7 linked regions of the Homo sapiens genome follow. The protein of the gene in region 5 purifies or fractionates together with the protein of the main gene of each other region. This does not show direct contact. Each region holds a gene or a part of one and is shown on either strand. Other genes may lie near its edges. The genes, in order: COX15, ITIH1, C6orf58, HPX, SFXN4, TSC22D1 and CP.

The links.
Region 1: the proteins of SFXN4 (region 5) and COX15 fractionate together in Homo sapiens (co-fractionation; one large-scale study listed by IntAct). This does not show direct contact.
Region 2: the proteins of SFXN4 (region 5) and ITIH1 purify together in Homo sapiens (affinity purification with mass spectrometry; one large-scale study listed by BioGRID and IntAct). This does not show direct contact.
Region 3: the proteins of SFXN4 (region 5) and C6orf58 purify together in Homo sapiens (affinity purification with mass spectrometry; one large-scale study listed by BioGRID and IntAct). This does not show direct contact.
Region 4: the proteins of SFXN4 (region 5) and HPX purify together in Homo sapiens (affinity purification with mass spectrometry; one large-scale study listed by BioGRID and IntAct). This does not show direct contact.
Region 6: the proteins of SFXN4 (region 5) and TSC22D1 purify together in Homo sapiens (co-immunoprecipitation; one large-scale study listed by IntAct). This does not show direct contact.
Region 7: the proteins of SFXN4 (region 5) and CP purify together in Homo sapiens (affinity purification with mass spectrometry; one large-scale study listed by BioGRID and IntAct). This does not show direct contact.

The regions. Positions count from the first base shown.
Region 1 is NC_000010.11:99,718,628-99,722,127, forward strand, and holds part of COX15 (heme A synthase COX15), read right to left. Parts: intron 2,442-3,500; coding exon 2,360-2,441; intron 1-2,359. UniProt on the Homo sapiens protein: Catalyzes the second reaction in the biosynthesis of heme A, a prosthetic group of mitochondrial cytochrome c oxidase (CcO). Heme A is synthesized from heme B by two sequential enzymatic reactions catalyzed by heme O synthase (HOS) and heme A synthase (HAS).
Region 2 is NC_000003.12:52,776,144-52,780,398, reverse strand, and holds the start of ITIH1 (inter-alpha-trypsin inhibitor heavy chain H1 isoform a preproprotein), read right to left. Parts: upstream 2,801-4,255; 5' UTR 2,784-2,800; coding exon 2,667-2,783; intron 2,403-2,666; coding exon 2,382-2,402; intron 2,060-2,381; coding exon 1,893-2,059; exon of another isoform or gene 1,733-1,892; intron 1,458-1,732; coding exon 1,353-1,457; intron 968-1,352; coding exon 805-967; intron 479-804; exon of another isoform or gene 306-478; intron 131-305; coding exon 17-130; intron 1-16. UniProt on the Homo sapiens protein: May act as a carrier of hyaluronan in serum or as a binding protein between hyaluronan and other matrix protein, including those on cell surfaces in tissues to regulate the localization, synthesis and degradation of hyaluronan which are essential to cells undergoing biological processes.
Region 3 is NC_000006.12:127,580,174-127,583,673, forward strand, and holds part of C6orf58 (protein LEG1 homolog precursor), read left to right. Parts: intron 1-91; coding exon 92-276; intron 277-1,008; coding exon 1,009-1,109; intron 1,110-3,500. UniProt on the Homo sapiens protein: May be involved in early liver development.
Region 4 is NC_000011.10:6,430,988-6,434,487, forward strand, and holds the end of HPX (hemopexin precursor), read right to left. Parts: intron 1,031-3,500; coding exon 900-1,030; intron 817-899; coding exon 654-816; intron 484-653; coding exon 224-483; 3' UTR 62-223; downstream 1-61. UniProt on the Homo sapiens protein: Binds heme and transports it to the liver for breakdown and iron recovery, after which the free hemopexin returns to the circulation.
Region 5 is NC_000010.11:119,162,915-119,166,981, reverse strand, and holds the start of SFXN4 (sideroflexin-4), read left to right. Parts: upstream 1-1,267; 5' UTR 1,268-1,334; coding exon 1,335-1,445; intron 1,446-1,724; exon of another isoform or gene 1,725-1,913; intron 1,914-2,785; coding exon 2,786-2,851; intron 2,852-4,067. UniProt on the Homo sapiens protein: Mitochondrial amino-acid transporter. Does not act as a serine transporter: not able to mediate transport of serine into mitochondria.
Region 6 is NC_000013.11:44,436,831-44,440,330, forward strand, and holds part of TSC22D1 (TSC22 domain family protein 1), read right to left. Parts: intron 463-3,500; exon of another isoform or gene 346-462; intron 29-345; exon of another isoform or gene 1-28. UniProt on the Homo sapiens protein: Transcriptional repressor. Acts on the C-type natriuretic peptide (CNP) promoter. Acts to promote CASP3-mediated apoptosis.
Region 7 is NC_000003.12:149,211,830-149,215,329, forward strand, and holds part of CP (ceruloplasmin precursor), read right to left. Parts: intron 870-3,500; coding exon 622-869; intron 1-621. UniProt on the Homo sapiens protein: Multifunctional blue, copper-binding (6-7 atoms per molecule) glycoprotein. It has ferroxidase activity oxidizing Fe(2+) to Fe(3+) without releasing radical oxygen species. It is involved in iron transport across the cell membrane.

The sequences.
Region 1 (3,500 bases), about 19 Mb from region 5:
TCTGCAACAGGAGTTCTCCAACAGAGAAGATACATCACAATCACCAAGGAAACTTCAAATCTCTGCATCCTTACCTGCTCCCACCCCAAGATTCTGCTTCCTCTAGAGAAGTGGAGTAGAGGCTGTGGTGTGGGGGGAGGGGGAGAGGCTTATTAGCTTAGAAAAATTCCCTTAGTGATTTTGATGCCCTCCTCACCCCGCCACTGAGTGCTACTGATTTATTTTAGAAATGCTCTCCCACAGATGTCTGCATGACTGACTCCCTTATTTCCTCAGCTTCCACTCAGATGTCACCTTACCAAAGAGATTTCGCTTGATGATCCTAGCCCACTTTCTGTCTCCTGACCCTAATTTATTTTTCTTCATGGCACTAAATATCATCTAGCACATTATGTTTCTATTGTGCGTTATCTGTCTTCCCCAAATGCTCAATAAATGTTTGTTGACTGAATACGGAAGTGAGAAAAATCCCAAAACTTATAAACTAAATCCTGGATAAACAAATAAAGAGGGTATTCATGAATTAATGGATGTCTGATCCATTATTTATTATCAAAGAAAATCCAGAAATGTTTGGGTCACACTCGCTTTTTTCTTTCTTTTTTTTTTTGAGACGCAGTCTGGCTCTGTCCCCCAGGCTGGAGTGCAGTGGCATGATCTCGGCTCACTGCAACCTCTGCCTCCAGGGTTCATGCAATTCTTCTGCCTCAGCCTCCCGAGTAGCTGGGACTATAGGTGCGCCCTTTGGTAGAGACGAGGTTTCACCACGTTGACCAGGCTGGTCTCGAACTCCCAACCTCAGGTGATCCGCCTGCCTCGGCCTCCCAAAGTGCTGGGATTACAGGCATAAGCCACCATGCCTGGCCTTTTTTTCTTTTTTTGAGTCAGGGTCTTGCTCTGTCACCCAGGCTGGAGTGCAGCAGCGCAATCTCCGCTCACTGCAGCCTCGACCTCCTGGGCTCAAGCAATCCTCCCGCCTCAGCCCCCTGAGTAGCTGAGACTACAGGTGAATACCACCACACATGGCTAATTTTTGTATTTTTTGTAGAGACGAGGTTTCACCATGTTGCCCAGGCTGGTCTTGAACTCCCTGGCTCAAGCAATCTACCTGCCTCAGCATCCCAAAGTGCTGGAATTACAGGTGTGAGCCACCATGCCCAACCCACTCCATATTTTTTTTAAATGTCCCTTATGAAGTAAAAATTCATGCTCTTATGCCAAAAATAAAAGTGTTGAGTGGCTCATTGGTTTGAATCAATATTATTTTTAGTCCAGAGCAGTACTATCAATAGAACTTTCTGTGAGAGTGGAAGTATTCTATATTTGTGCCAACCAATATACTAGCCCCTAGCCACATGTGCCTGTGGAGCATCTGAAATGTTGCTAGTGTGACTGAAGAACTAAATTTTAAATTTTATTTAACCTTAATTAATTTAAGTTTAAATATCCACATGAGGCTACAGGCTCCTCTACTGGATAGTGCAGTTCTAGAATGAGAGCAGCAGTGGTGGAAGTGTGGGTTAAAGAATGAAAACGGCCAGGCATGGTAGCTCATGCCTGTAATCCCAGCACTTTGGGAGGCTAAGGCGGGTGGATCACCTGAGGTCAGAAGTTCGAGGCCAGCCTGGCCAACATGGTGAAACCCCATCTCTACTAAAAATACAAAAATCAGCTGGGCGTGGTGGTGTGCACCTGTAGTCTTAGCTACTCGGGAGGCTGAGGCACGAGAATCGCTTGGATTTAGGGAGGCAGAGGTTGCAGTGAGCTGAGATCATGCCACTGCACTCCAGCCTGGGCAACAGAGTGAGACTCAGTCTCAAAAAAAAGAATGAAAAAATCCTGTGTTGGTCTCTCTGTGCCAATGAACTCTCCACCTGCAACCATCTCTGAGGGCAAGCCTTTTCTCTGACCCATGTTGATGTAATGTGATGATAACAATGTTTATATATAGTAACAGCTAACACTTATGTAGCCTTTGCTACATGCCAACAACGATGCTACACATTTCACATTTAGCAGTCATACTGTTGTCGTAATCTCCATTTTATAGATAAGGTCTCTAAGGCCCAGAGAGGTTACAGAGCTTGCAAAGGTCATATAGTTCACAGGTAGTGAAGCCAGGATTTGAACCTAGGCCATCTGGATCTAGGTAGATGTTCAATATTTTTGTTCAATTGACAGTAAAGTAGAATTTTTGGAAGAGAGAAAGGAACAGGAAACAGGGTGAAGATGGGGGAATGAGAGAAACAGATGTGAAAAGGAAATATAAAGATGCAGGAGGAAGGGGCAAAGCATTAGGCAAGAGGTCCCAGCTTAGAGTGCAATGCAAACAGGTCATCTTTGATGAGCTGAGTCCTACCTGAGAGGGCCGTAAGGAACACCAGACCTGCTGTTCCATGAGCAAATCGTCTCAACTGTAGGAGTTGGTGGGTTTCAGGCAACTAAATATGAAAAAAAATCATTCAGTTAAACTGTGTTGCAGGAACAATGAGAGGCAGCAAAGATCTCTAAGGCCAAACCCAAGTGACAAATTAAGATCAGATCTTCTCTGACCCCTAGACTAGGTTAAGTACTCCTGGCAGATATTCTGTTCCAACATGTACTGTATTTTATTATAATTATAGATTACTATCTGTTTTCCCTTCTACCCCATAAGTTTTGTGAAGGCAGGAACTGCCATCTTTTTTACTAGAGCAATCTTAGCCTAGTGATTGGCACATAGGTACTCATTACGCATCTGTTCAAAAACTGAATGATTTCCATTATTCAGGAAACAATGCTTCATCACGGTTGAAAGGATGTAGCTTAAGATCAGGACTGGATTTTCATGTGTGTGATATTAGTGTTTAGCAAATATAGTCAGAATCAAAATTGCATAAAGTGCTTAGAGATTCCTCCATTTAGTGTTTTTGATAAAATCAAAATTTGTTTTTATTCTTATTACCAACTTCTAATACTAATAAGTGAATCATCAAATATGAATAAGAACTTTATAAACAGGTGACTATGCCACCCTCAAATGGCTTACACTCTACTATATGAAAAGTTAGGTATCATTACTAACATATTATAGGACAGTATATCAGCACTGTCCAATAGAACTTTCTGTGATGGAAAAGTTCTATCATCTACCTAAGGAGAGCTTGAAACATGTGGCTAGTATGACTGAAAATTAAATAAAAAATTAATTTTATTTAAATATAAAGTTTAAATAAACAAAAAGCTTATGTAAATAAATTTTATTTAATTAAAAAAATTTTTTTTCTCACTTTGTCGCCCAGACTGGAGTGCAGTGGCACAATCTTGGCTCACTGCAACCTCCACCTCCCAGGCTCAAGCGATTCTCCTGCCTCAGCCTCCCAAGTAGCTGGGATTACAGGTGCGCGCCACTATTGCCCAGCTAATTTTTTAACTTTTAGTAGAGATGGGGGTTTCACTATGTTGGCCAGGCTGGTCTCAAACTCCTGACCTCAAATGATCCACCCGCCTCAGCCTCCCAA
Region 2 (4,255 bases), on a different chromosome or scaffold from region 5:
TTGCTATCCCATGTACCTTTTTTCCTGAGAAGGACTTCTTGATAGTTTGGGCTGCCAGTTCCTTCGGCAGGAAAGAGGCCTGGGCATCCAGCTTGCTGATCCCCTGGGGCTCGAAGATGTCCACATCAATCTGCAACATTGAAGCAAATTATTTTTTTAAAAAAAAAGATGGGATCTTGCTTTGTTGCCCAGGCTGGCCTCAAACTCCTGGGCTCAAGCCGTCCTCCTGCCTCAGCCTCCCACGTAGCTGGGATTATAGGCTCACACCACACTGAAGCAAATTCTCTACCAGGGCTCCCACTCACCAAGTCTCAGCCAAGAGCCAGCATGTGTCCTGGCCACCTACTGTGTGCAGCACCCACCCAGCCCTGATCACAGGGCCTGGTACTCAGTAGGCACTCCAAAAATACTGACCAAATGAAGGTGTACATGCCTGCATCCCTCAACTCAGCCACCACTTAGGTGCCAGCAATAATTCCAGGCCCTCAGGCTGCGCGGGACTTTCTAGTTTACAAAATTACCTGGACATTCAGTACTTCTCGTGATCCCTGTGGCGGTCCTGGGACTCACAGAAACCCCCCGTCTAGCAGATGAGCAAACCGAAGCTCAGAGATAAAGAGGAAGTTAGAGAATTCAGGGAGTTCCCTGCCCAAGAAGAGCACATCAGAGCTCACCCTGAGGGGTTAGTCCCCATCCCTGTGTTCTCAGGCCTGGGTGGTGACACATGGTGGGTGCTCAACCAGTGTTGGGAGCCATGGTGACGGAGAGAGGGGCAGGACCCCTGCCCCGGGACCTGTGATCTACCTCAAAATGATGCACCAGCTGCTTGGGCTTGACTTTGATGACAATTTCATACTGCATATGGTTTCTCTTCAGCACTTCCTCATAAGTCAGCTGAAACGTGACCTTGCTCTGGGGATTGACGGTGAGGTGGATGGTGAATTGCTCCATAGTTCTCCCCGAGGCCCTGGATGTGCCACCAGAGGCAACAGCAGACAGACAGAGGGTAAATGACATTTGGGTCCTTGTCACCTAACATGTGGCCCACAGAATTTATTTCTCTTAGATGAGTGTTGCTCCCAGGTTTCCCTGGACCTCACAAATGTGTTAGCTGGCTGGTCAGGGTCAGGGCCCAAGATGGCGGGGGCCCACTTCTCCCAGTGGCATATCTGGGAAAAGGGCAACTGCACGGCAGCCTGTTCAGTGCACCGTGCTGGCATCTGGGTTTGGGCAGTTTGCTTACCCTTCCATCATCCTGGGCTGTTCTCCACTAAAGCCACCTTGCAGCCATCAGACCTGTCCTGGCTGGGGAGGGCAGCCCTAGAGATGAGACCAGCAGGCCCAGAACTCACCTGACAAGGCCGGCATTCTCTCCTGAGATAGCTGCTTTCCGGTACTGCTTCCATGCAGTCACCTTGTCCTTTATGTCTCCGATAAATGCGTTTCCATCTGCTGTACTGCAGGGAGGGAAGGACACCCTCAGGAAAGATGAGCCTCCTGACCACACAGGTCCTGAGAGGGCCTGTCCATGTGAGCCCTTGGATAAGGACGTCTCCTGACGAGCCTTCCACTGCCCATGGTGGAACTCAGGGGTCCATGGGCAATGAGGTGAGCAGCCCAGGTCAGAGGCCAGCAAGAAGCCTCAGACTCTGGCCTTGGCTCCTTGGGTTCTAGCCTGAAACATGCTGTGATGGGTCCCAGTTTGCCTCCAAGATGGGAGCCAAGCACAGACCTAAAGGGCTTCTTCCTCCCCTCAAAGCCAGGGCTGGTCTGTGGCCCTTCTAGAATGAGGAGATGCTCTGCGTTATCTGGCCACTCCGATCCTTGTTCTTAAGCTGGGACTAGTAAGCGGCACCCCTGGGAGAAGGCATGGGAGTTGGGCAGGCACGCACACGGCAAAGTCACTGATGAATGCTGTCTTGGGGATTTCCAGGTCGAAGGCCACTTCCCTGGCTTCATTGGCAGTGTTGACCACTTGGCTGGTGACAACATAGTGGGCGAAGCGAGAGGTGACTTTGCAGTTGACTTTCAAACTCCGGATGAACACGCCATCGACAGCCTAAAGTGAGACATGAAGGAGCTGTGGCCTGAGACAGGGCCTCTGTCAGCGAGGGACTTCCTGTGGTACGGGGACTTGGCACTTAGCCCCAGTGCATGGTGCCCAGATGCAGGAAGAACAGACCGCAGGAAGACCCCTGCTCTCTGGCTGAGACCGTGCTGTGGGATATGAGGTGAGATGGGAACAAGTCCCCATTTCTAGGACCCTGGAGAGTACCCCATGCCTATGGCCCTGATAGAGGGGTCCACCCCTGACAGGTTGGGGAAAGCAAGCCTGTAAAAAGGGCTCTGTCACAGACCCCTTTGCCAGGACTCTTACTCACGGTGTCCACAGCCTGTCGCTTCTGCAAAACAAAATCAGGGTCAAGTGTGAGAGGAAAACTCAGGGGACCACCGGCCTGCCAGTTCAGGGATGGGAGTGGAACACAGCCTGTGTCCTCTGCCCCTTAGCTTCACCTCCTTGGTGGTGCTGGGAGGTCACCTCTCCACTCAGAAGTGGTGGAGGTGGTGGGGGTGACCCTGGCCCCTTGAATGGGGGTCTTGTGTCCCGCCCGGGGCCTCATCCAGGTTCAGCTGCCTATTTCTGCCCTGTGGGCTTAGCCATATACCTCGCTGCTCTTGGACCTGCCTGTAGCCGAGCCCAGGGCAGGCATGGCCTGCAGGATGAGGAGAGATACCAGGTACATGCACAACAGCAGCCCCCGAGGCCCCATGGCACCGTCCATGCTCTAAGGCTCCTGCTGCCCTGTCACCTCAGTCAGACCAGTAATCAATACAGTGCTGGATAAACATGGATTAAACATTAGACAAGGTGCAGGCAAATATTAATGACAAAAACCGCAATGACTTTTGCATCAACCTAACACATTTAGAGGAATCAAAATTTGGCAGTGGAAGCTTTTTGCCTCAGGGGGGTTCCCAGCTCTGGGTGGTTAAACTACTGATGGGGCTCCAGACCATGTCCCTCTGTGTAGAACTGCGCTTAGCCTATGTGAACTGTGAGGATCCCCGGATGGCTCATCTCATCCTCGGGCTGGCACAAGGCAGCACCAGTGACACGGTGACATGTGGCAAGAAGCAACAGTTAAAAATGGATTTCTAAACTTCATTAGGCTTTACTTTTTTTTTTTTGAGATGGAGTTTTGGTCTTGAGTGCTAGAGTGCAGTGGCAGGATCTTGGCTCAGTGCAACCTCCACCTCCTGGGTTCAAGTGATTCTCCTGCCTCAGCCTCCCGAGTAGCTGGGATTACAGGTGCACACCACCATGCCCAGCTAATTTTTGTATTTTTAGTAAAGACGGCTTCACCACATTGGCCACGCTGGTCTCGAACTCCTGACCTCAGGTGATCTGCCCGCCTCAGCCTCCCAAAGTGCTGGGATTACAGGAGTGAGCCACTGGGCCCGGCCAGGCTTTACTTTCAAATTTCTTTTTTTTTTTTTTTTTTAAGACAGGGTCTCCCTCTATCGCACAGGTGGAATACAGTGGTGCGATCTTGGCTCACTGCAGCCTCGACCTCCCAGACTCAACTGATCTTCCCACCTCAGCCTTCTGAGTACCTGGAACCACAGGAATGTGGCACCACACCCAGCTGATTATTTTTATTTTTTGTTGAAACAGGGTTTCAGTCGGGCGAGGTGGCTCATGCCTGTAATCTCAGCACTTTGGGAGGCTGAGGGAGGCAGATCACTTGAGGCCAGAAGTTCCAGCCCAGCCTGGGCAACATGGTGAAACCCCATCTCTACCAAAAATACAAAAATTAGCCAGGTATGGTGGCATGCGTCTGTGGTTCCAGCTACTCAGGAGGCTGAGGCAGGAGAATAGCTTGAGCCTGGAAAGTGGTGGTTGCAGAGAGGCAAGATTGTGCCACTGCACTCCAGCCTGGGTGACGGAGCGAGACTGTCTCCAAAAAGAAAGAAAGAAAAGAAAAGAAAGAGAGACAGAGAAAGAAAGAACAGAAAAGAAAAAAGAAAAGAAAAGAAAAGAAAAAAGAAAAGAAAGGGAGGGAAACAGGGTCTCACTTTGTTGCCCAGACTGTTTCAAAATTCTTTCAGCATCAACACACTTTTCAGTCATGCTTTGGCCAGGGAGGCAGACACGGTGGCTTAGAAAGTGTGTGACATCCAGCCATGCTGGTGATTCTCACAGTGCTAACCTGGTATTAGCTCTGTCAGAGACAGTCTGGACGGTCGGGGTGAG
Region 3 (3,500 bases), on a different chromosome or scaffold from region 5:
TGAATTTTTTTATGACTTATGCCTTCCTTAAAAATATCCTCTTTGAAATTTGTTAGTGCTTGTAGTAATAGTAAATCTTTTGTTCTTACAGATTTGAATTATTTTCTGTCTTCATTACCCTTTCTTGCTGCGGTTGATTCTGGTGTAATGGGGATATCATCAGACCAAGTCAGGCTTTTGCCCCCACCCAAGAATGAGAGGAAGTTTTGTTATGATGTTTCTAGCTGTCGTTCATCCTTCCCTGAGACAATGAACAAGTGGAACACCTTTTACCAGGTTCCTTCTTTATACTCTTACGAGATAGGAAGAGAGTTTATTTTGTCATATAATTTCGTCTAGGATTTTTTTGTGCATTACATAATATTTTCCTTAGTATGCAGATGTAAATTGCTATGCATGATATATTAATAGTATATTGTAGAGTGTTATGAGTCATTAACACCTACTGCCTCAATACAGCATTAACATAAATCTATCCATTCTTCTTGCCTCAAATACATTATACAAAAATGGTGAGCATACAGGATATTTTGCTGAATGATTAATAAGCTATTCTGATTAATTGAGTCTTCATGTCCACTAGGATATTGGAAGAAATTTGACTAAAATCAATGAAGAAAAGATATATTTACTAGTACTTTAGTAGATTATTGCATTAGTTTAGATCTAATGAAACATTTTAAGAAGATATTTTTGTTACTCACGATTTTATGGTAATTTTAACAGTGTTAACAGGAAAAAATAAAGGCCTGATCGGTATAAAATATAAACTCTGAAAATACTTGAAGTTCAATACTTATAGATGCATATGCTATTATTAAAACTAATGAATATTTTTGTGTTATTTAAAGAGTGTTAGGCATTAAGGCCATATACATACTTTTTCTTAGAAATAAAATTCTTCTTTTATGTACAATATTGCTAAAATATATCTGAACATGACTAAATTTCAGGGAGAAGGATTTTATAGTTGCTCAAATATTAATAAATTTGACCTCTTTACCTTAGTATTTGCAGTCACCTTTTAGTAAGTTTGATGATCTGTTGAAGTACTTATGGGCTGCACACACTTCAACCTTGGCAGATAATATCAAAAGTTTTGAAGACAGGTAAGAATGAATCTTTAAAGTATCTCTATTTAATATGATAAATAATTTTGGGCATTATTTATATATTTTTCTTCTTCTTCTAGAGTGTTTTTCAATCTTTATATTAAATAATAAGCCTAACCATTGGAGATTATAGTGAGGATGTGTAAATATTTTAACATGATCAGGCTTAAAAAAGTGTTTTATGAAGAAGGGGAAAATTTTGAGAAAAAAAAGCCTTGCATGAAAAAACAAAAAAAAAAGCAACAGACAATACATTTTCCTAAATGTAGAAAACAAAATATAATATAAATATGTAGATGACCTTTATTATTTAATCATAGACACTGTTACAAGAAAAACTATAGATAAGATAAATGTAGCAGAATTCACTTAAGCAATGAATGATTCATTAATCAGCATCATCCTGAACCAGTAGAGGTTCAGAGAGCTTCACCCAGTGATGTGGGCAGGCAGTATTTATAGACAGAAAAAGAAAGTGACATATGGAAACACCTTGATTGGTTACAGCTCAGATTTGCCTCATTTGGACATAGTGTGGTGAGAAATTTGCCTTGTATAGGCATGGTTTGATCAGTTGGCAGCCTGTGATTGGCTGAAGCTCAGCTGCCATGATTGGCTGAGACCCATATTTGTTACAAGAAAATACTCTTAAGTTTGGTTGCAGTTTGTTTACAAACTACATTAAGTTGCAGTTTGCTACATATCGTGGCAATTTTAGGCCAAACTTAATTTAACAATTCCCCACCTTTTGGTCTGCCTCTCAATTTTGAGAGGTTGACCAAAACCTTGGGCATTGACATCACTCTCTGTCACTTTCATCATTGACTTATTTGGTATCAGTATGGAATTCACAGTTCACAAATCAGGACAGTTGACTGATTATTTATGTTCTCTTTATGTTTTCATTATTCTAATTTTAATGAGACCATTTGACATAGAATGAATAGCTGCATAAGAGGATTTAAGACTCTGGGGAGGTTAAGGTGCACCAGGGAAACTATTATGATGGCTGTCAGGAGGCTGATACTAAGAGACAGAAGGAACCTCAATGAATTGAACCAACATAAATCAAATATATAAATAATAAGCCAGAAGAAAAATCTACTTGTTTTAACCAATTGGCTTGTTTGTTGATTTCTTACAACTGAGCTTCTACCCTACCTGATGAATTTACTTAAGTACAGGAGGGAGTGTTAGCTAGCGCACATATTCCTCCCTAAAGGTAGTCCAAAGCAATCCGGTTACCTAATATGCCTTTAGCAAGAAAATCTAAAGAAGTTTGCTGGCCAATTGTAGCCTTTGCAGTAGAGTCAGCTGTAGTAACTAATGTATGAGACGTATTTCTAAGCATAACCTCCTTTACATTTATACAAAGCCAGGGAAGGAATTTTTTACCCAACAATACCCATTAAGAAGAATTCATACCTGCTGGTAAATTCCTCTTTATTCCATAGTTCAAATTAAGAGTTGCAGACCAATATCCAGTTTCCAATTAGTTATGGAGTGACAGGAGTACTCTTGGAATCCCTTAATTGTCGGTGGCTCCTTATTTTGTAATTATTGAGACATGGATTTGCCCACATATATGGTTGGTTGTTAAATCCTCCACAAATAAAAATATATTCTGGAAGAACCCTACAGATAGTCTCCTGTGTGAGATGCCTTGTGCGTTATGAGTCAGCATTATGAGTCAGCATTAGTAATATTTGTCTAAGGCCTCATTTTTTAATCATTGTATGGTTAGAAGATACTAGCAACTAAAGGATTAGGGTTATAAATTTGCCTACAAACGTCGAATTATCTTCCTTTTGTTTTTCAAATTCAATTCTGGCTTAATTTAATTACCATACTCTCATTATAGGTTTTGCCTACTGTTAGATTTAAACAGGCAATCTGAATATTTGAATCTAAAAGTCTAGCTGTTTAGAAAGAACTAGATATTGCACATGGAATATCAGTGAAATTTCTTACAGGGTGAACCAGAGTATCTCTAAGATCATGTGAGGATTTAGGTTTAACATGACATATGCAATACTCAGTTAAGTTCCATGCAGAAGTAATTGAGTATGAAATCTTCATTATCACATTATATTGCCATGTGTAGACAGAAAAGAAACATGGGCCAAAAAGGAAAAGGAGAAAAGACTTCATGTTGACAGAGGAGAAAAGACTTTATTCATGATCTTGGGAAAGCTGTCTACATCAAGGATGCCATCTTCTTCTGGGGAAAAAAAACGTTCCTAGTAAGCTTTACCTGGAGATCTCCGATGGGTGTACAGTCCCAGGGGTCTGGAGGGGCTCTCTTGAGTTGAGAAATGTGGATCCAAGACTCAAATCCCTGAAGTTGTGCTGCAAAAAAGAGCTTGGTGTGGTACCTTCTGATGGAGT
Region 4 (3,500 bases), on a different chromosome or scaffold from region 5:
GGAGAAGTGCTAACTTTTCAACTCAAAGAAAGAAGATTGTTTCACGACCAAGGTCCCTTGATTCAAGTGAAGAAGCAATCTGTCTTTATTATGAGAAACTGGGGAGGTGGGGCCAGGCCAGACTCATGTCAGAAGGCCCCTCAGTGAGAAGCGAAGAAGCAATCTGTCTTTATTATGAGGAACTAGGAGGTGGGGCCAGGCCAGACTCATGTCAGAAGGCCCCTCAGTGAGTGCAGCCCAGGAGACTGGTCACATTCTGGGGTTGCGGAAGGGCCTTGGCTGCATTCAGTTTCTCCACATCACTGTAGCAGTACAAATTGGGACCATGGATGAGGTACAAGCCGGGACCATTGGCGGAACATGAGTTAGGGCCAAGGGACTTTTCCATACACAAGGCTCCGTCTACCTTCTCATGGGGCCAAGGAAGCTCTGTCCACGTGGCTTGGGCTCCTGACTTCAGGTCCAGCCACCACAGCCGCCGTCCTGGGGAGAAGGCACCAAACATAGCATGGCTTCCATGTCATGGGGATCCTGACCTAGGCCTTCTCATGCCCTGGGGATCCTGACCTAGGCCTTCTCATGCCCTGGTGGGGATCTATGCCACAGACAGGTAGCAGAACAAGCTGCCCTCTAAGCACCCAGAAGCCCCTCACCTGCCATGATATGGAGCCGAGAAGACCCAGGGCAGATAAAGGCCGCATCCACAGAGTCCAGGATAATCCCATGAGGGGTCCCGACTTCCTTCTCCAGCCGCTTCGGATAACCGCTTACTAGGGTATAGCCTCCCTTTGTCAGGAAGACATATACCTGGGTGCCCTGGAGGACAAAGGATGGTAATAAATACAGAGTTGGATATGCTTGTCCCAGTCTCTACCTCAAGCCTCTCCCCCAATACACACCTGGACCAGATAGAGTTTTTCTTCCCAGGAAAAGGCAGCATCCACTGCTGAAGGACCCTGGGGCCACTGATGAGCAATGGGCCAGCTATGCCAGCCATCCCGGCTGGTGTCCAGACGCCAGTAGTGGGTCCCTGTGGAATACCATAGGTTGCTCTAGGGCCGCTGGCAGAAGCCCAGGCAGAGAAGAGGCTAGTGATGAATGCAGAAATGAGTCATGAGAGGGAGAGAATGCATCCAGAGGCCAAGATGGAAGAGGCCAGGTGAGAAGGAGAAATAGAGCAAGACTTGGTCAGCAATGTTGGGCACTGTGCCCTGGCTGAAACTGGAATCAGCAGGTGCCTGAAAGAAAGGCAAGTGTGGAAAACAGTGGCTAAGTTTCCAGGTAAGGCCAACATCATGGGGTTGGCGGGCACTCCCTAAGGATTTCAGGTGTCCATGTACAGAGATGCGGTTATAGATAATGAAATACAGTGTCCAGAACTTAAAAAGGAAGCACCACTTCTACTGAATGTTCTCACTCTGGCTGTGTTCTCCAGTCTCTCCCTATGAGGTGGTGGAAGAGTGAGGGAGTAGCTGGGCTAGCACCCCGTTTTTCTTCTCCTCTTTTCACAACAACTTATTAAGGAATTATCTAGGCTCCCATTTGTCTTTTTTCCTCAATCCTCTTCAATTACACTTCTGTTTCCCTCAACCATTGAAATTGTTCTTATCCAGGTTGCTAGTATTCTCCAATTTGCGAAATCTCATGGTCAATTCTCTGTTCTCATCTGACCCTACCTCTCAGGAGCACTGGACTGCTCACTACTTCCTTCTCCTTTAAATGTCTTTTTTTGGAACTTGGCTTCTGTGACACCTGACTCTCCCAGTATTCCTCTTATCTTTTTTGACTACTCTTTTCTTCAACCTGATATCTAAATATTGGAATCCCCTACTTTGGGCCTCTTCTCTTCTCTCTCTACCTTCACTTCCTTGGTAATCTCACCTAGTCCAGGGGCTTTAAATGCCATCTATATGCTGATGACTTCCAATCTGTTCTCGTCAGCTCTGACTGACCTCTCCTTTGAGGTTTAGGCTCCAAATCAGCTGCCTACCTGACATGCTTATGGGGTGCCAATAGGCACCCAAAACCTAATATGCCCAAACTGATTTCTGCCCCCCACCAACACACACACTCCCTAGTCTTTCCCAATTTTAGAAAACAAAACCACCAGCCACTCAGTTGCTGAGTCCACGAAAGCTGAGTCATTCTTGAAGCCTCTTTTCCCTTCCCTACTCTGACTGATATCATTCATTCATTCATTTATTTAGAGACGGAGTTTCACTCTTGTTCCCCAGGCTGGAGTGCAATGGTGCAATCTCGGCTCACTGCAACATTCACCTCCCAGGTTCAAGCGATTCTCCTGCCTCAGCCTCCCAAGTAGGCTGAGATTACAGGCATGTGCCACCATTCCCAGCTAATTTTGTATTTTTAGTAGAGACGAGGTTTCACCATGTTGGTCAAGCTGGTCTCGAACTCCTGACCTCAGGTGATCCACTCGCCTTGGCCTCCCAAAGTGCTAGGATTACAGGCGTAAGCCACCACACCCGGCCTATCTTAGCTATTAGTTAATGCTGTCAGCTCTACCTCCAAAATATATCATGGTGATTCCTCACCACCTCTGCTGCTATCATCCTAGTCCAAGCGGTCATCACCTCTAATTTGGACAACTGCACGGATTGCTAGCTGGATTCCTTGCTTACATGCTTGTACTTTTATAACTTATGTTCTGCAAAAAGTCAGAGTGATCTTTTATAAAAAATGAGTTAGAATATATCACAGCCCTGCTCAAGACTTTCTGATGACTCCCTTTTATGGTTGAAAACCCTTACCAGGTCTAGGTAACCTGGCCACTGCCGTCCCTGCCCTTTCAAGTCACCCACCTGCTCTTTCTCTGTGTTCCAGCCTCACCAGGCTTCCTTCTTGATTCCTTGAAGTATGTGCTGCTCACCCTCCCTAAAATGCTTTTCCTCCAGCACATCGTGTGGTTAATTCCTTCTCATCACTGAAGTCTCAGCTCAAAAATCATTTCTTCAGAAGACAGCCCTCATTCTCCTCACCTCTATCCCACTATCCTGTCTTATTTTCTTTACAACCCTTAATATTACCTAAAATTATTCTCTTTCTTCCTTTCTCTTTCTTATTGTCCTCTCTCACTTTAGCAGAGCCTGTCAGGGCAGGCATCTTGTCTGCCATGTTGACTACTGTATCTCAGTGCCTAGGACAATGCCCACTTCTTATCAGATGCTCAACAAATATTTGTTGAGTAAATACCTAGTGTTCTTGCTGCTACCACAAGTTCTCTTATTAGCCGTGTACTGAGTATACAGCGGTGACTGACATATCCACCTCCCCTGGGAGGTTTCCCACTGAAATTACCCTGCTCAGGAACCATATTTATTTTATTTTATTTATTTGTTTTTTGAGACAGGGTCTCAATCTGTCACCCAGGCTGGATTGCAGAGGCACAGTCACGGTTCACTGCAATCTCTGCCTCCCACACTCGAGCAATCCTCCCACCTCAGCCTCCTGAACAGCTGGGACTACTGGTGCATGCCACCACA
Region 5 (4,067 bases):
GAATCACTCTGGCTCCTTTGTTAAGACGACATAGCAGTCCAAAGTGGGGAAGCAGGCCAGCGGGCTGGCTTTGTGACATCCTGGAGGGTAGAGACAACAGAATAGAACAGCACGCTACATACTGCACTGGTGCTTAGATGGATTTCTGCGGCATAAGGGTAGAAGTGGAGGGGGCACCTTACTCAACTCGGAGGGTCAGGGAAGGCTTCCTGGAAGAGGAGATAAACCCCTGGAGGTTAAGAAAAGTGAGCTAGGCAAACTGAGCAAATACAGAAGCAGAGTCATACAGGCCTGAAGGACGCCATGAGCCAATTTCCTGTTCCTGGAGGCGCAGGGCAAGGGAAGGAATTGGCCCGCTGGAGGTTAATGGCCAATACTGAGCACTTCTGAGGGCTCAGTGCTGTGTTAGGGATGTTTTATCTCCTTTGATCAGAAACAAAACCCTGAGATAGGTACAATTGTTATCCTCATTTTGCGGATGGGAAAATAGACTTCGAGATACTGACTTGGCGAGGGTCACACAACTAGATGATGTGCTGGGTCCCCCAGTCCTGGACTCCGGAGGCCCCCTGAACGACCTAGGCACACTTGTGGCTTCCGTGAATTTAAGTGCACACAGCCCCCGCCTGGCCCTGTGCTGGGGAAGGGCAGGTGGGAGGAGGAAGGGAAGGCAGGTTTTTCTTTACAAATGGTACCTATTTGGTAGTCAACAAAAGGAACTGGATTTGCCCCAACACTGGAAGAAAAAAAAAAACAACCTGTTGGGCTGAGGGATAGTGCACTGTGCCCAGGGCCCTATACTTGGTTTGATGCTCTGGTGTTACTCTCTTGAAATTCTCAGTAACATGAATAAGGGGCACCGCATTTGACATTTTCCCTGGGCTGAGACCATGATGCAGCCGGCCTGACTGCGCAACACCATGCACACTGGAATTCGTGGGCCATCGGAGGGATTTTCGAGGGTAATGACCAGGGGTAGGGCGCGGCAGAAGCGCAGGGTGAGGTTGCGGACGGCCTCACTCACAACCTTTCCGGGTCTTCGCATTAGGTACTGTGATGACGGGTTCCGATAGTGACCCCTTGGGGCCTGGAGACGGCCCGGCTCCCCAAAGGTGCGGAGCAGGGCAAGCAGGGTTGGGAGGACGTGGCCCGTGGGAGAGCTGCGCTCGCCGGAACAGTGGGCGCGCAAGGGCCCCGAGGCGCTGTGACACGGGACGTCGGGCGCGCGGGCCTGGGGCGGGAACTGCGGGTGCGCGCGGCCCGGGGCGGGGCTCGCCGCCCGGCTCCTCCTCCACGCGCGGCCTGGCGGCGGCGGCCACTCTAACCAGCGCAAAATGTCCCTGGAACAGGAGGAGGAAACGCAACCTGGGCGGCTCCTAGGACGCAGAGACGCCGTCCCCGCCTTCATTGAGCCCAACGTGCGCTTCTGGATCACCGAGCGCCAAGTACGGCCCGGGCCCGGCGCGACTAGGGGCAGGGAGGGGGCGGGCCGGGCCGCGTGGAGTCGGGCTGACCCGGGTGACCTTGGCCAGGCCACGTGGGCGCCCCCTGTCTCCGTTTCCTCCTCTCGGAGTTGTGCCGGGAACGCGCACCACCGGCCTTCACCCCTTAGGGCGCGGCAGGGGACGCAGGGGAAATCGAAGCTGCCAGATGCCCACGACCACAACGTCACCCTCCAGATTGCCCTCTCGGAGGGGCCCAGTCCGCGCAGGTGGCTGCTCCCTACTGCCTGAGCTGTGGCTGAGCAGCAGATTGGGGAGAAACAGGCTCTCGCACCTTGGTAAGCTCAGCCACTTTCGGTGAGACCCCCGAGGCTTTGGGAAGCCACCCTTGGGCAGGACATAAGCAGGACTTATCTCCCTGCAGCGTCTAGGGCAGCACCGTCCAATAGAAATATGATGTGAGCCTTACAGGTAATTAAACATTTTCTAGTAGCCACATTAAACAAGATAAAAACAGCTGAAATTTTTAACAATACAGTACATTTAGCCTAGCAGGTGCAAAATATTAACATTTCAACATGTAATCAGTAAAAAACATTGCTGAGATATTTTACTCGCTTTTTTGGTACAGAGTGTTCCAAATCCGGCGTCTGTTACCTTCACAGCACATCTGGGTTCAGCCGCATGTGGCGAATTGGAGAGCAGGGCTTTAGGGGGTTCTCTTTGAGGCCTCTCCTAAAGTGGGGTCCAGCCCTGTTTTTTTTTTAGGTGGGGAAATTGAGAAGGGGCGGTGAGCTCAGGTTGCTCCAGCAGAGCCAAGGCTTAAAGCCAGAACCACTACAAAGTTTAGAGTTTGCTGGAGCAAACCTCTTTTTCCCCAGTGTGACCCCAGCTGCACCATTGAGCCCTTAATGGGGCGTCCATCCTTTGTCACTGGAGTGAAGCCTTATAGCAAGCAGAGAGTGAGGCCACAGACTCTTGAGATATTCTAGGCCATTGCTTCGAGGTCGTATGTGAGATATGAACGTAAGACCATTTGAACCCCCAAAGTCTGGGATTTTAACCCTCAAGGGCAATTTGATACTGAGAGGTTAAGGGCACAGACTTCTGAATCATTTCCTGGCTGTGTTGCCTTGAGTACATTCAGGAGTCCCTCTAAGCCTCAGCTTCCTCACCTGGAGAACCTGGAGAGGTTGGGAGGATCCCAGGAGATGATGCCAGTAAAAGGCAGATCACAGACCCTGGCAGGTTCTCAGAAAAAAAAAAAAAAAGCCAACTGTTAGTATTTATATCTTTATTTTTCTGCTGCCATTAACCTCTCTGTTGCTTTTCTCCCTCCTAAGTCCTTTATTCGACGATTTCTTCAATGGACAGAATTATTAGATCCTACAAATGTGTTCATTTCAGTTGTAAGTATTGTTTTCAGAGCTAATGAATTTCACATTTTATTTTGAAACTTGAAGTCTGTGTGTCCCTTTTTTTTTTTTTTTTTTTTTTTTGAGACGGAGTTTCGTTCTTCTTGCCCAGGATGGAGTGCAGTGGCACCATCTCGGCTCACAAGAACCTCTACCTCCCAGGTTCAAGCGATTCTCCTGCCTCAGCCTTCCGAGTAGCTGGGATTGCAGGCATGCGCCACCATGCCCGGCTAATTTTGTATTTTTAGTAGAGACGGGGGTTTCTCCATGTTGGTCAGGCTGGTCTTGAACTCCCGACCTCAGGCCCTGCCCACGTGTCCCTTTTAAAAGCAGTTGAAATAACAGAATCTACATATATTATTGTGTTTATTCCTTCTAAATGAGCTTGTCAGATTGGAAGGGGTAAGGAAAAGCGTACATCTGACCGTGTGCCGTGGCTCATGCCTTTAATCCCAGCACTTTGGGAGGCCGAGGTGGGTGGATCACCTGAGGTCAGGAATTCGAGACCAGCCTGACCAACATGGTGAAACCGACGTCTCTACTAAAAATACAAACATTAGCTGGGTGTGGTGGCAGACACCTGTAATCCCAGCTATTCGGAAGGCTTGAGGTGGGCGAATCACTTTCTGAACCCAGGAGGTGGAGGTTGCAGTGAGCCGAGATCTTGCCACTGCACTCCAGCCTGCGTGACGAGCGAAACTCCATCCCCTTCCCCCAGCAAAAAAAGAAAAGAAAAGCGTACATCTGTTTAACAGGTAATATCAGGCCCAGGCCAGGTGCTGGGGATTCAGAGAGAATCAAACAAATCTTCCACGTGATGGAGGACAGACTGGCTAAACTGGTCACATCCTGGGTGACAAGAGTGAAACTCCATCTTTAAAAAAAAAAAAAGAAGAAAGAAAATGTAATAAAATTAGAAGCAAATATAACCAGATGTTTACAGTTGTTAATTCTGGGTGAGGGGATTATAGTGTGTAGCCATTCTTTGTAATTTTTGTATTTATTTTTTCTCAAATTAAGAAATGGAGGCTGGCTGTGGTGGCTCATGTCTATAATCCCAGCACTTTGAGAATCTGAGATGGGAGGATCTCTCGAGAATAAGAATTTGAGACCAGCCTGGGCAATGTAGCGAGACCCTATCTGTACAAATAAAAATAGAAAGTTAGCCAGGTGTAGTGGGTTGTGCCTGTAGTCGCAACTATTTGGGAGG
Region 6 (3,500 bases), on a different chromosome or scaffold from region 5:
CGCAGCCGGGCTCCACTCAGCTCTAGACCAGGACTCCCAGTCTTAGTGCAAAATATATGCAGGAAAGAGCTGCGCCGATTGGCCGGCACGCCACTGGGACCGCCCCCTACTCCCTTCCAGGTCCTCCCGCTTCCCTGCTTCCCCGCCTCCCCCCACCCCCACCTCCGCCCCCATTCTCCAGATCCCGCTCGTGGGGTGGGCTGGCCTGGCGCGGGCCGTGCTCAGAGGGAGTGGGGTGCTGGGTTCGGAGGTTTCCACGGCGGCCTCAAAACACTGGGCCATTGCTTCGGCAGAAAATGTGAAGGGTCCCTGAAAAATACTATGGGGGCCCCCACACGTGCTTACGTTTAAGGGAGTCAGACCCCGGTCCCCGGAGCTGTGTCCCGCGGCTGCTTAACGGCGAAAGCTTCCTATTTGTAACCCGAACCGTCTGAGCTACTGGGCATGCCCAGTCCCACCACTGTAAGACTTCGAGTGTCTTGATTTCAATTATCTAGTTCTTACCGGCAGCGGTACTGGGAGGATTTTATAGACGGTTTTATTTTTAAAGATAATAATCACCCTGCAATCATGTATTTTTTTAATTTTAGAGGAAAAAAAATCACATTTGCTCTTTGAGAGATACTACCTTTTGTTTTATAGAAACAAAACAAAAAACATTATATATTCTTTGCTAGGCATGAGGGAAAGACTCCAGATAAAATCCAGGATCTTCCCAAAAAGCCCGTAGAGCCACAAACCTTAAAATCACATCTCCCTATTAGCATCTTCTCCCTAGTAACTAAATATGCCTTCTTCTATTTAGACCCAAAAAAGTCAATCCACAGGTTGAATTCCACATAAATCTATTTTTAGTTAAGTCCCTAAGGCACGTTTTTGCAAGCTGAGTGACAATTCCTCTAAGACTCAATCCCTCAATCCTATGAGCCTTCTTACATCAGAGGGATTGAAATATTATAAAGTATGTATTCAAAGCATACAAATCCTTGAAGTTAGTCTCTGCCCATTTGCAGTGTCCAGAACCAGAAAAGGGAGGATATAATGGTGGTTAAAAATAGTTAAGCAGCCAATAGATGCTGTAGGCTCACCTCTGTTTCACCCTCTTGGCCACACTGACCAAATAATTCCCTTCTCCAAACCAAAATCGAGAGATGTGGGTATAAAATAGCTTAACCCTTTCAAAATTTCCTATATTAATTTAAAATACTTGCAGGGATGCATCAATTAAGGCTACAATTTAATATACTAGAAATCTAAGCCCTGAAGTTTGCTAAATTATAATACAACATAAACAGTTTCCAAGTCAATACATGCGAGAAAGAAAACTTAACCTCTACAATACTGCCCTCTAATGGCATAATATAAAAACCAAAAAATCTACAAAGTACTTGGGGAGACCTCTCTAATCTGTAGATAAAATTGTGTCATCACAAATAATTCCAACATAAAATCTGACCGTAGAACATATATATGTAATACACGCACATGCACAAACACACACAGTCTTCTCTCCAAAATAAGCATCTTTCCTCAAGCAGCATCCTTTTCTAAAATTGCCATCAGATCCATTTAGACAGTTTTTAAGTTGACTCAATGCTGGTAGTGGGGGTAGGTAGATTTGGTTTTCAGAAACTGTCCAAAGTTATTAGGAACCAGACCAGATCGGTAAGCACAGTAAATGATGAAGACCACAATTCTCTTTTGGGTTAAAAACCAAAGTGTGACCAACTATAAAGTGATGAGATTCCCTTTTTACTGAAAGGTTCATATTCTCCAAATTTTAAGGCTTGGCTTTTGAATAACAATAATTGTTAACATATTTATAATTTATAAAAATTACATATATTAACTCATATGATGCTTTAAAAAAAAAGATACCCATTTCCAACAAAAGGAGACTAAGTAGAAGCTTAGAAATCGTAATTATTTGGGAAGCTGGCATGTGGTCCCTATGTCTATGAATGCTAACCAGAATATTATTTACTACATGATAGTCTCTATATTTTGAAAGTTAAAGTTATACCTAAAACTATTTGTATGCTAAATTCCATTTACATGTTTTAACTGAATGCCAACTTCATGAAAAAAGGGTATTAAAGCACCATTTAAGCTATAAAAAGAGCTTTAAAAAACAAAACTCTAAGGTCATATAAAAAAATTTTTAAATTCCAAGCTGCAGTTTTAAAAAATTACTAAATTAACTGAATTTATTCATGCCGTTCTTCAACATAAACAGAAAGCTGTTTTTATTTCAATCATTTTAACTGATCATCCATTGTATCAAGCAAGAGAAGCAAATATAAGCAACCATAGTCTATTTAACCCATTTTCCTATTGAAGGACATTACAGTTATTGTTAATACTTGGATATTTTAAATAAAATTGCAAGGAACATCCTTCTACATACATCCTTGAACATGTATGTGTGTGTGCACACTTCTGGAGAATTTGTTGAGCCAAAGGATAGGCAACTAAAAAAATGATTAGAAATCTAATTTTCTCATATATTTCACATAAATATGCTAGATTCCTTTAAAACTAGACTTTTGTATGAAAACTGAGAAGACATAATTTGAAAAAGAAGGCAAAGGAAATGGAAAGCTCCATGGAGGGAAAACCCTTGGATCAGAAATGTCCGTGGCACAAATGGCTAGAATTACATTCAAAGGCTCTTCTAATTGCAAGACAAACGATCCATATGTCTGGTGCCTCATCAGAGCTCACTGAGACTTGCTGACAGGGCAGAGAAAAATACTACAAGGCTTCCAGGAGAGATCCTTAAAGCCATGGACCATATAAGTCTATTTCAGGCACTGAGCAAAGATCAGGAGGTATCACCTCAGTGGGAACTCATACACATTAAACAGCCTGGACAATTGAGATTGAGGTATTTTCTAGTGTTGTCTGCCTAAAAGCCTTTTTACACAGATTCCAATTCAACTGCTACTGCATATTGGTAGCAAGCATGACAGGATAGGAAAAGAGGAACAGGCCTGAGTGTTTCTGTTTCCTGTAACATGTGCTTTTCTTCCAAACTTAATCTGACTTGGCCAACACCGGTACAGTTGGAGATTCAGCACTGAAATAGAGTAACCTCTTTCTCCCCCTATCCAAACTCCTTGCAAATCTAAAACAACTGCCAGGAAAGAAGCGAAGGCACATTACCCTGTACCTGACCAAATCACTGCTGTCTAAGGACTCCCACGTCACCTCCATTTTTCTAGTTTACTCTCACTAGGCATGGGAATATACTTACCAGGTTTAACAAATGAAACTACAGGACTATCAGTTAAATGTGAATGGCAGAAAAACAACAAATAGTGTTTTAGTGTTGGGTCCCACACACTGTCAAAACAAGAAGAAATGCCAAAGAAATGGCTGTTAAATTCAACCACAATTTACATTTCCTTATCTCCACAGAAAGGCTGGTTGGAAAAAGCTTCCAAAAGAGTAGAACAGTGGCCGGGCGCGAGCGCGATGGCTCATGCCTGTAATCCCAG
Region 7 (3,500 bases), on a different chromosome or scaffold from region 5:
CCATTTCTCTTATTCTATTTGGCCAGAAAGGACTGGGCTCTGGGAAAGAAGCTCCAGCTCTCTCTGACTCTCACTGAGTCCACCTAGAAATTCTCTCACATTCACACTTTCCACGAAAGAGCACAACCAAGAGAAACATGCCATTATTATATGGAAACAAAGTACCTATTAATAAAATAGTTGGCCGGGTGCAGTGACTCACGCCTGTAATCCCAGCACTTTGGGAGGCTGAGGCGGGCAGATCAGGAGGTCAGGAGATCAAGACCATCCTGGCTAACACGGTGAAACCCCGTCTCTACTAAAAATGCAAAAAAAAAATAAAAATAAAAAAGTTTGCCAGGCATGGTAGTGGGCGCCTGTAGTCCCAGCTACTCGGGAGGCTGAGGCAGGAGAATGGCTTGAACCCCGGATGCGGTGCTTGCAGTGATCCGAGGTCGTGCCACTGCACTCCAGCCTGGGTGACAGAAGTCAAAAAAAATTAAAAAAAAATAAAAAAAAAATAGTTAAGAGCTGAATGGCAGTTATATGTCTTATCCAGGAGAGAAGTCCACAATTTTAGAAGCTAAAAGGCACTTCTACTGAAAAGTAAGAGGAAATTCCAGCTACATGAGCTGAACTTACCCTCATGTTCCTTATAGTAAGTTATTCCATGTGAATGAAAGGTGTAGGGCCTAGAGGCAAGGTTTTTTAAGTGTACATAAACTTTATCTCCAGTTTCAGCTTTGATAATAGGGCCTAAAAACCCAAGCCAGACCGGTTTTTCTATAGTTGTCCTAAAGGTTTCATCTGTGTACTGAAGATAAAGGGCCTTCTTATATAGTCTCCCAATTCTATCTGGGCCATTTTGAAGATAGATATTGGAATGTTCCCTGCAAAGAAAAACAAGACAACTCTATCAGAAGCCATCATTTCTAGGGATGACATTATCATTATAATTTAATAACATTATAATTAGAGAAATTAATGAGCACATCACATTGAATGTTTGCCTGTTGTAGGGATGCCTCCAAAATTGAAGTGGAGGGCTGGTAGTTAGCCCTGTTATTTTAATGATGTGAGGCTTTCCATATCAGGTATATGTCAGAGAACCATCTGCGAAGGCATCATAGAAATGTAGTGCATCTTACTGAAGTATTTTCTCCATGATTTTTATATTAAGACACAGGCATATTATGTAATGGAATAGAATACAAAATTAAGTTGAAATATTAAAATAAAGCAGTTAATTAAGACATTTTTTCACTTCTACCTCTCTTAGCTACTGGAAAAATTTGAGTTTATAATTAATCAATCTGGATATTTGAGACTTCAAAGTATGTGTGTGTATATTTATATATTTTTTTCCTTAAAGTAAGATTAATAAAGCTAAATTAATTCTTTTATATTTCTTTTAACAGCACTAAATCAAAGCTAGAGTTGTTGATGCATGCAATGTGTGTGGTTTTTAAATTACTTTTGAATTTAAATAATCCCTGTGTTTTTTAATCCCTCACTAGTACAGATACTTAACATTGAATGTTTGTATTCTAGTGAATGTCCATTAATAGTTGCTTAAAACTTTCTTTAAAATATCAGTGAGGTAAATAGCAATCTGGAAAAGAAAAGATGGAAAGAAAGTAAATTTGGTTTGAATTAATTTCTTGTGTTATCAACCTTAACTGAAGGCTTATATAGCCCAGTGGGATCTATTCATGGGCAACATCATGTTGCCATTTGGCAGGACCCACTTAGATTCTGGCCTTTGGCAAGCCCCTCCACAACCAAGGCTCTTCCATTTGAATAAAAACTGCTCATCATCATGGGTGTGTGTGTGTGTGTGTGTGTGTGTGTGTGTGTGTGTGTGTTGCCTTCTTTCATCTTATTGATCTTTGATACTTTACCAATTTCTACTCAACATTTGTGGGGCCGAGTAATCTGACTGAGGAATAAGTTTTGTCTTGTTTCCTCAGTTGTAAGCTCACTGGTAAAAGTGAGATATATTTTTCTTTCCCTTCTTTAAGACAAGAGCAGAGCTTGTGTGAGAGCTCTGGACTTTCACTGCTACAGAATTTAAAGATGTGGTTTTTCAAAAGTCTAAGGCCTGATGTTTCTTAAGTCTGAATATGCACAGGAATCTACTGATGAACTTAGTGAAATGCAAACTCCTGGGACACAACTCCATTGATTCTGATTCTGTGGGTCTGGGGCAGGGCCCAGGTATCTGCATTATTAACCAACACACTGGTGTGTTTTGATGAGATAGTCTGCTCTGGGGCCCTGGGTAACCTGTGTTGAAGAGGCTCTAAGGTTGAAGATTAAGAGAGCTGCCCAATCCCAGAAGCAGTGGGATTCCTGATACCATGAGACAGAAAGGTAGAAAACTCGGTTTCCAGGTCATACCTGGAAGTGGCAGGACCTCTGCGGTGGAGGCTATATAGATTAAGCCTGAGTGCTGGGGCCAGGTACCATGGCCACTTGGCAATGGTCCTGGTGGCTGAGTTTGGGCAGAGTGAGCAGGTGTTGAAAATAAGAGTCACCATTCTCTGGATTGATCAAGGAATTTCTATGATGAGCGTTTCCTCCTAGTCACTACCATATACCAATACACTGGGAATACCAATTTTCCTGAATTGTATAAACCCGAATTCCCAAAGAAGATAAAATTATTCACTAAAAAAATGACTGAGATGATGTTTCCCTGTCCATCCCCTGTCCTGGTGGGAGGGCTAAGCTAGAAGTTAGAAAAATAAAGTGTCATTATTTGCAGCCTGTGTGGAGCAGCAAAACTGTGAGTATACCCTCATTTTTTCTATTTGTTTTCACTTTCTAATTGTTTGTTGCCATTTCCCAATTTGTTAAAGCAAAATAGGAAAAGATTGGGAGAGACTTCATGGACACAGGTAGGCATGGGAAAAGGGCAAGACACTGGGGTGAACTCTGTCCCTAAACCCATAGCAAGGAATGCACAGAAAGAGTCTTAATAAATATATGTCTTAACAACAGCAAAATTGTTGCATCAAAGACTACTAAGTTTAAAAGCAGAGAGTCATTCAGTCCATATGACTGAGAGGAGGTCAATAAGAGTGCAATTTCAGTTAGGTACACAACTGCAGCTGCAAAGTCTACAGTACAAAGGTACAATTCCACTCTGGTCCCACCGGAACCCTGGACCAATCAATCTCACAGAGACTTGTCTAAGCCCCAGGGTAAATTTTCTTAAGAGTCTGAACACACTTTTATTTCTGAGAGATTGATTTGATAATATTTGGAGACTTTACTCCATGCTTTACCATGTCCTATTGGTACACATCTTACATAGGCCAAAGTTAAAAGTTAGCCCTCAAATTCTTAAGGCTTCATTTAAATAAAATGTTTCTTTATATTTTCTGAATGTAAATACACTTTGGCATACATCATGTCCTATTTTGATAAACTATAGCAGGCTTTGTCAAAATGATTTTATTGCATTGAAATGCTCCTGTATTAATCATTTCCTAAAATAGGAAGAGCATTGCCATAAA